2 linked regions of the Homo sapiens genome follow. The protein of the gene in region 2 purifies or fractionates together with the protein of the main gene of each other region. This does not show direct contact. Each region holds a gene or a part of one and is shown on either strand. Other genes may lie near its edges.

Evidence for each region.
Region 1: the proteins of KCNH7 (region 2) and LRSAM1 purify together in Homo sapiens (affinity purification with mass spectrometry; one large-scale study listed by BioGRID and IntAct). This does not show direct contact.

What each region holds. Positions count from the first base shown.
Region 1 is NC_000009.12:127,475,510-127,479,009, reverse strand, and holds part of LRSAM1 (E3 ubiquitin-protein ligase LRSAM1), read right to left. Parts: intron 77-3,500; coding exon 47-76; intron 1-46.
Region 2 is NC_000002.12:162,835,968-162,840,200, forward strand, and holds the start of KCNH7 (voltage-gated inwardly rectifying potassium channel KCNH7), read right to left. Parts: upstream 2,801-4,233; 5' UTR 2,552-2,800; coding exon 2,476-2,551; intron 801-2,475; coding exon 570-800; intron 1-569.

The sequences.
Region 1 (3,500 bases), on a different chromosome or scaffold from region 2:
TCTTTAATGAGAAAAGAGTGACAGAAGGGTAAAGGCATTTTCTTACCTTCCTCTTCTCATAGTCTGAGAACCTGTTCTGGGAGGAAAAAAAGACAGTGGTCAAGAGAGGGTGGCAGCAGTGGTTCTCCCTGGCATGGGCACCAGGAACCCCCGGGTGGCCTGATGTTATACAAACTCTGGCCCACCCCAGACCACTGCCTCAGAATGGTGGGGTCGGGGGATGAGGGGATCCGTATTGATCAAGGGCACCAGGTGGTTCCAGTGGACACCTGATGAGAACCCCTGGGCTGTCACTGTGTGCATGGCACTGTAGGAGGGGCTCTTCAAGACAGTTCTGGGATGCAGCCCTGAGCAGGGATGGTGGTCTGAAGAGCAGAGCAGGAAATGGGATATCTGATGCCCATGGATGTCTGCGTAACACACCTACAGCACCCGGTTCCAGTCCACCAAAATACTCACAGTGCACAAAGGTGTGGGTACAACTTCCTGCAGAATTATTCAAAAGAGCAAAAACACTGGAAATAACTCATACATCTATCAACATCTGTCCGTAAGTCATGGTGCATCCATACAGTGGACTATTACACAACCGCCAATGGGGCGAATGTGTGAGATCCCTCACCTGTGTGTAGCATGATTCTACTTTTGCAAAAACATCATCAAGAAAACTCAACTCTGAGCATATGTGTGAAGGTATTGAGTCAAAGGTCAAGAAGGACAGTCATTAATCAGTTAATGATGACTACCTCCAGGCAACGGGAGTGCAGGGTGGAAGGGTTGACATTCACTTGGTTTGTAATTGTCTGTATTGTTTAAATTTATAACAAGGAGCAGGTATTAAACATCAATAATGTAATGTAATTATTGGTGTTTAATTAATTAATTTATTATTGATGTAATTAAACAGCAATACACATATACACAAGAGTTAGGTTCTTCTTTTTTTTTTTTTTTTTTGAGACGGAGTTTTGCTCTTGTTGCCCAGGCTGGAGTGCAATAATGGCACAATCTTGGCTCACTGCAACCTCCACCTCCTGGGTTCAAGCAATTCTCCTGCCTCAGCCTCCTGAGTAGCTGGGATTACAGGCACCCACCACCACACCCGGCTGATTTTCTGTATTTTTAATAGAGACAGGGTTTCACCATATTGGCCAAGCTGGTCTCGAACTCCTGACCTCAGGTGATCCATTTGCCTCGGCCTCCCAAAGTGCTGGGATTATAGGCATGAGCCACTGCGCCCGGCCCACACAAGTTTTTTCTTTGTGATGGAGTCTCACTCTTGCCCACGCTGGAGTGCAGTGGCACAATCTCAGCTCACTGCAGCCGCGACCTCCTGGGCTCTAGTGATCCTCCCACCTCAGCCTCCTAAGTTGCTGAGACTGCAGGCACGCACCACCATGCCTGGCTAATTTTTTGTATTTTTGGTAGAGACAAGGTCTTGCTATGTTACCCAGGATGGTCTCAAACTCCTGAGCTCAAGCATCCACCCGACTCGGCCTCCCAAAGTGCTGGGATTATAGGCGTGAGCCACTGCGCCTGGCACACAGGTATTTTTTGAATGGTCCTTCTATTTAGTTATCCTGTTTTGAGAACAGGATCAGTCTCTGAATTATAAAAGCAGCAACCTATAAATAGGATTTTGCCTATACTAATGGTAGGAATATAATTTTAAAATTAATCTTCAATTATACAGATAACATCTCAATATATTCTCCTTGTAAAAGTTTGAAACATGGTATAAAAAACTAAAGCATCTACTGACCACTCCAGCCTAACCCTGGTTCCCCTCCCACCCCACACCTCCTGTCAGGTGTAACTGTCATTATCAGGCCCAAGGCATGCATCTGTACATATATAATTTGTGCCTTTGGGAAAGAAATATATTTGTATTTGTGTGCATATATAAACATTTTTTTAATCAAGTATAATCTATTTACTCTAATTCACCCAATGTTAGTGAACAATTCTATGAATCTTTATATATGCATAGAGTTCTGTAACCTCTAAACACAATTAAGATAGAAAACAATTCTGGCTGGGCGCGGTGGCTCATGCCTGTAATCCCAGCACTTTGGGAGGCTGAGACAAGTGGATCACTTGAGTTCAGGAGTTCGAGACCAGACTGGCCAGCATGGTGAAACCCCGTCTCTACTAACAAAATGCAAAACTTAGCCAGGCGTGGTGGCAGGTGCCTGTAATCCCAGCTACTCGGGAGGCTAAGGCAGGAGAATTGCTTGAACCTGAGAGGCAGAGGTTGCAGTGAGCTGAGATCATGCCACTGCACTCCAGCCTAGTGTGACAGAGTGAGACTCTGTCTCAAAAAGAAAAAAGAAAACAATTCCATCACCCTCGAAAATTCGCTCATGCCACTTCATCATCAAATCCTCTTCCCACTCCAGCCACTGGCAACTACCTGTCTGTTTCCTTTTTTTGTTTTGAGTTTTCTTTTTCTTTCTTTTTTGAGATAGGGTCTAGTTCTGTTACTCAGGATGGGGTGCAGTGGTGTAATCTTAGCTCACTGCAAACTCCAACCTCCTGGGCTTAAGCCATCCTCCCACCTTAGCCTCCCTCGTAGCTGGGACCACAGGCACGTGCCACTATGCCTGGCTAATTTTTTTGTATTTTTTGTAGAGACAGGGTCTCGCCACATTGCCCAGGCTGGTGTTGATTGAGTTTTCTTTTTAAACATAAGAATGGAAATAGACTAGCCCATCCTGTTCTGCAATCTGCCCTTTTCACTAATCCATGTGTCCCAGCGAGCCGAGGCTCAAATGCTCCATCTCATGGTGTGCACATGACCCAGGGGCAGTGCCTTCTCACTGACAAACATTTGGGGGGCATCCAATACTACAAATAAGGCTGCAATAAACACTCCTGCAAATGTCTCCTCATGCAAGCATTTATCTTGGGTATACATTGAGAAGCGGAACTTCTGGATCACGGGCTGTGCCCATGAAAATTTTTGACATCTGGCGGGTGTGGTGGCTCACACCTGTAATCCCAGCACTTTGGGAGGCCGAGGTGGGCAGATCACTTGAGGTCAGGAGTTCGTGACCAGCCTGGCCAACATGGTGAAACCCCGTCTCTACTAAAAATACAAAATTAGCCGGGCATGGTGGCGCATCCCTGTAATCCCAGCTACTCGGGAGGCTGAGGCAGGAGAATCACTTGAACCCGGGAGATGGAGGTTGCAGTGAGCCAAGATTGCACCACTGCACTCCAGCCTGGGCAACAGAGTGAGACTCCATCTCAAAAAAAAATAAAAAAATAATAAAATCTTTTTTGACACCTACTGTCAAATTATCCTCCAAAGTTGTGATACCAATTTTCACTCCCAAGAGCAGTTTATGAGGACACCTGTTTTCCCATACTCTGGCCAACAGAAATTGTCATGTCAAAATGTGTGCCAATCTTGAGGAAGGAAATGGTATTTCAATGTTGTTTTAACTTAACATGCCTCTCCTCTGATTACCAGCAAAGTTGGCATTTTTAAATGTTTG
Region 2 (4,233 bases):
GCCTTTATTGTTTGAATATGCACAGGTTAACTGGATCAAGGTAAAAGTTCCTATTTATCATCCTTAATGTTGTAAGAAGGAGCAAAAGAAACAAGAGGTGTTGCCTATCAACTAAAGCTAAAGAGCCAAGAGACATAACTGTAATAGTTTTAGTTTTAGATATAGTTTTCAACATAAATTTGCTTTGTGGAGTATTTTAAAGTTCAAACAAGTAACACTGTATCTGTATTTCTCGCCTACCAAATGCATACCAATGCAAGCAGTACATTGTTCATCTTTCTCTAATTCCTTAAAGAAAGGAGCATCTAAGACTGATTTGTAGCATTTTAACCTCAGTGACATTATGTTACTGTACTTTTGAAGAGATTACAGTACCCTTATTCAAAGAAAAAATTGTTTCTACCAGACCACTAATCAGAATACCCATATATGTTGGATCCCAAAATACTATATGCAAAGCATATATCTACAATTGAACATTTTGGGCTTCTTTGCATATGAACTTTTAATAGTCAAAATTTCTTTTCAATGGGATCAAATAGAAGGAATCCTAAATAGAGGAATTTTACCATTTTTGTGATAGTAGGTGACCTCCACTTTCCTCTCTTCTGACCCCAGCAATGCCTGGGCAATTTGGGCAATATCATGCCTCTTGGTCTCGGGTCCATGGAGAAAGTCGCAGGTGCATGGCTTTTGCATGACATCTGGCCTGGAGAAACCAGTCATCTCACAGAACCCATCGTTGCAATAAATGATGGCACAGTTCTGCACTCTGGCATTTGCAATGATAAATTTTTTATCTGTAATAAGAAGACAGTATGGCATCTTTGAAAAAGCTTCCACAATATTCTCCGTAACACTGAAGCAATTTGTTGCATAATAAGAGCTCTGAAATGCAGGTGCCTCCCCAAATTACTAATCTCTCCAGCCCTTATGAAAAAAGAAAACACAAGAAACCCCACAAACTTTAAATGTGAGATTAATGATCCTAAGTAATTTTAACAGAAAGTATTAAGAAACCACTCTTAAAATTGCAAGAATAGAATTTCCCAAATAGACTAGTTCTCAAGCCCTGCAACTGCGGGGGTTCCTAGTGGACACTCAGACAAGCAGCTGCCCATTGATATTTTCAGAATGTCATTTAATTGTAATGTAAATATTTTCAAAGTCAAACAGTGAAACATTCTGTAGTTGTCAGATTTCTCATTTCAACCTTGGCCCTTTGAATACAACTTTCTCAAAGTAGTTATTATTCTTTGGCTTCTCCCTATCTCTCTTAGGCATGTTACACACATCATGTTAAAAACAAAGGCAACTAGCTTTAGTAATGAAACTACTTCATATTTAATAGCAATTCAACAAGGCAAAGATTCACATTTTCATAATATATATTTCCCAAAAGAAAAATATTTACACACACACAGTAAATATCATGACAACCTTTTTACTTTTACTTTGGGAGATCCTTGAAGTTTTCTGTAGTAGCAGGAATTCTTAATATAAAGAGCTTATTAATTTACATCACAGATTGTATTTACTATTTCCACATAGATTGTGAAGCAGGATATACAAGTTTAGTTTGTACGCAAGGTACCAGATCCTCACATCACTAAATGCAGTGCTGAAATAACCGCAAAATATATGGCATACAAATGTATTAATATAGTTTTAAGAAAAGACCGAAGATAAGTTAACAAATACAGGATTTTAAATTAATATATTTATATAGCAACAATTTATTCCCTATATTTAGTCCACATGAGAACATTAAATTTCTGTGCATTCAGTCTTTGTGGGATTTACTTATTACACTTCAATTTTTAAATTTCTAGATGGAAATTTTAAGGGGATAATAAAAGAATAGAAATATTATTTTGAATAATGAGCCATTTGCATCGGGAACCAGCACAGATGAGATACTGCTTTTCCAAATTACCCTGCTTAGGATATATTTGCATTGATTCAATACAAAATTTAGCTTCTATAAATTAATAGCAAGCAAGCATCCGTGTCATACCACTGCTTTGCAGTTTAACCAAGGTAAAATATAGTTTGCATAGTCATTTACATCGCTACTACCATTTACATTCTCTTGTTCGAATAGTATGGTCTGCTCTGCTTCCGACTTTCAGAAAGTCTACAGTAAAACAGCCTCAAAATATAAACCCATGTTATCCTAGCACGTTCCCTTTAAGATAGTAGAATAGTAGGAAATTAAGTAGCAAGGCAGATAATGGAGCAGTGGTAGAGGAGGATCAAATTGCCTCCTATAATGGAGACCGTAATCTAAAATGTAAATCAAAATTAATATCAGAAGAACACTCCCGCTGCCATTCGAACCTCCTGGCTCGGTTTCACAGCCTCTTAAGTTGACAGAGCCTGGAGTTGCCGGTCTCCCCACCTTGGAAGCGGTGGACGCCAAGTGCACTAACAAGGCAGAAAGCGAGGGCGAGAGAAGAGAACAAACGAACTTACTTTGCCCTTCAAATTTCCGAATGATGGTCCCCAGAAATGTATTTTGTGGTGCCACATGCCCCCTGCGCACAGGCATGTTGGCCCCGGTCTTCCGAGGAGCGCTCCCCCGGAGCTCTGGAGTTCTCCCGGGATCTCTCCTCGGCTAGAGCCCAGGCCAGCGCGCGAGCCGCTCTTTGTGGCAGAGCATCCTCTTTTGAAACCAGAATTCTCTTCCCATTAGCACCACTTCTAGACACCCGCTTTCCCCACCGGAGTCCAATCCATTCCCCTCACCTTCCGGAGGGGGCCTCGCACCGGACTGCCGCGGGTGAGAGGGTTTGGGGGTGGGGAACGGGAAGGAGGCGGGGTGAGGGGAGGTGGCGGGGGAGGGAAAGAGGGAGGGAGCTGTGGGGGTGGGGTGGGAAGGGGGCGGGGAGTCACAAGGGCAATCGATCTGTTTCTCTTCTCCCAAACAGCGCCAATTTCCCAGTGCAAATGGGCTTAACCTGGCGGTTGCCCAGAGCAGTAAGGAATGGCTGAGGGGGGATGGAAGACTTGTGCCGGTTTTGCTGGAAGGAGAGAGAGAAAAGGAGGCTGGGGGTCGGCGGGGTTGACGTTTCTATCCCCGCCCTCTCCCCCTAACACACACACACACACACACACACACACACACACACACACACACACACACACACACGCTCTCTTTATCTTGGTAGCTTGGGCGCCGCCACAGCTCGGATTACTCAAGCGTGCTTTAGCGGAAGCCAGCCAAGAAATCTCCAAAACTCAGTGACAAACAGCTACTCTGGGAAGGTGATCTCTACGGCCACCGGCCACAGGGCTCCGTCCCTGAGCTCCTCACGCCGCAGTAGCTAAAGCACCCTTAGCTGCAAGGAAAACACAGGTGGGAAAACAGTTTCTTAATGAGGAATATTTGTAAGCTCTGTTGGCGCTCAGCAGGTTGAAGATTGACAATGAACCACCTAAGGGTGCAGATTTAGCCTCAGGGTGCAGCTCGGATCCCTGGGTTCAGCGGAGGTGGGTGCCGAAGCCCGAACTGAATTGGCACGCAGGTCCCTGCCCAGCGCTGAGCCGCGCCTCGGGAAAGACTGAAAGCTGCCCGTGCCGCTGAGCATGCCCAGTTTCTGCCTGAGTCCCTGGAGGGTTGCAAGATTGGGGGTTGATTTGGTCTCCAGGTGCCGTAGGCTGCGAGGAAGATGAGACGGCCAAAGATGAGAAGGCCAAAGATTGCGAGCGACTAGTACAAAAGAAGGAAAGAGTTTGAAATAGGTGAGGCTGAGCGCCAGGGGGAAGGAACAAAAGGTGGGTGGGGCTAAGAGTTACCAGCCTTGGCTGTGACCTCCGATGCCACTCATCTCCGGAACACACTAGCCACATTCTGCTCTCCTCCACCATCTCTAAGGAGCCATCTCATATAGGATAGAAAAGGGTTCAAGGGGCGGAATAGAGTCCTCTTCCTTCTCGCTTCTCAAAGGCTGCCAGCGTGGGAATCTCAGGGTATACAGACACTTCTGTTCAAATAGTCCTCCTGGAGACTTAGGAAAATAAATGTGACAAGCTGTGCCAGGAAAGCGTGTTTTTGAAGCTGTTTTTCTAGTTTTTCTTGGTTCTTTTCCCTTCATTTTTGTTATCTTCCCCCCACCCACCCCCTTGAACCTAATAGCCCCTCTCCACGCCCCTTTCTCTAAATGGAATTTGCTAAGATTTCAATCTACTCAAGCAGAACACAGATGAATCTCTCATTTCCTGCTGGAGATA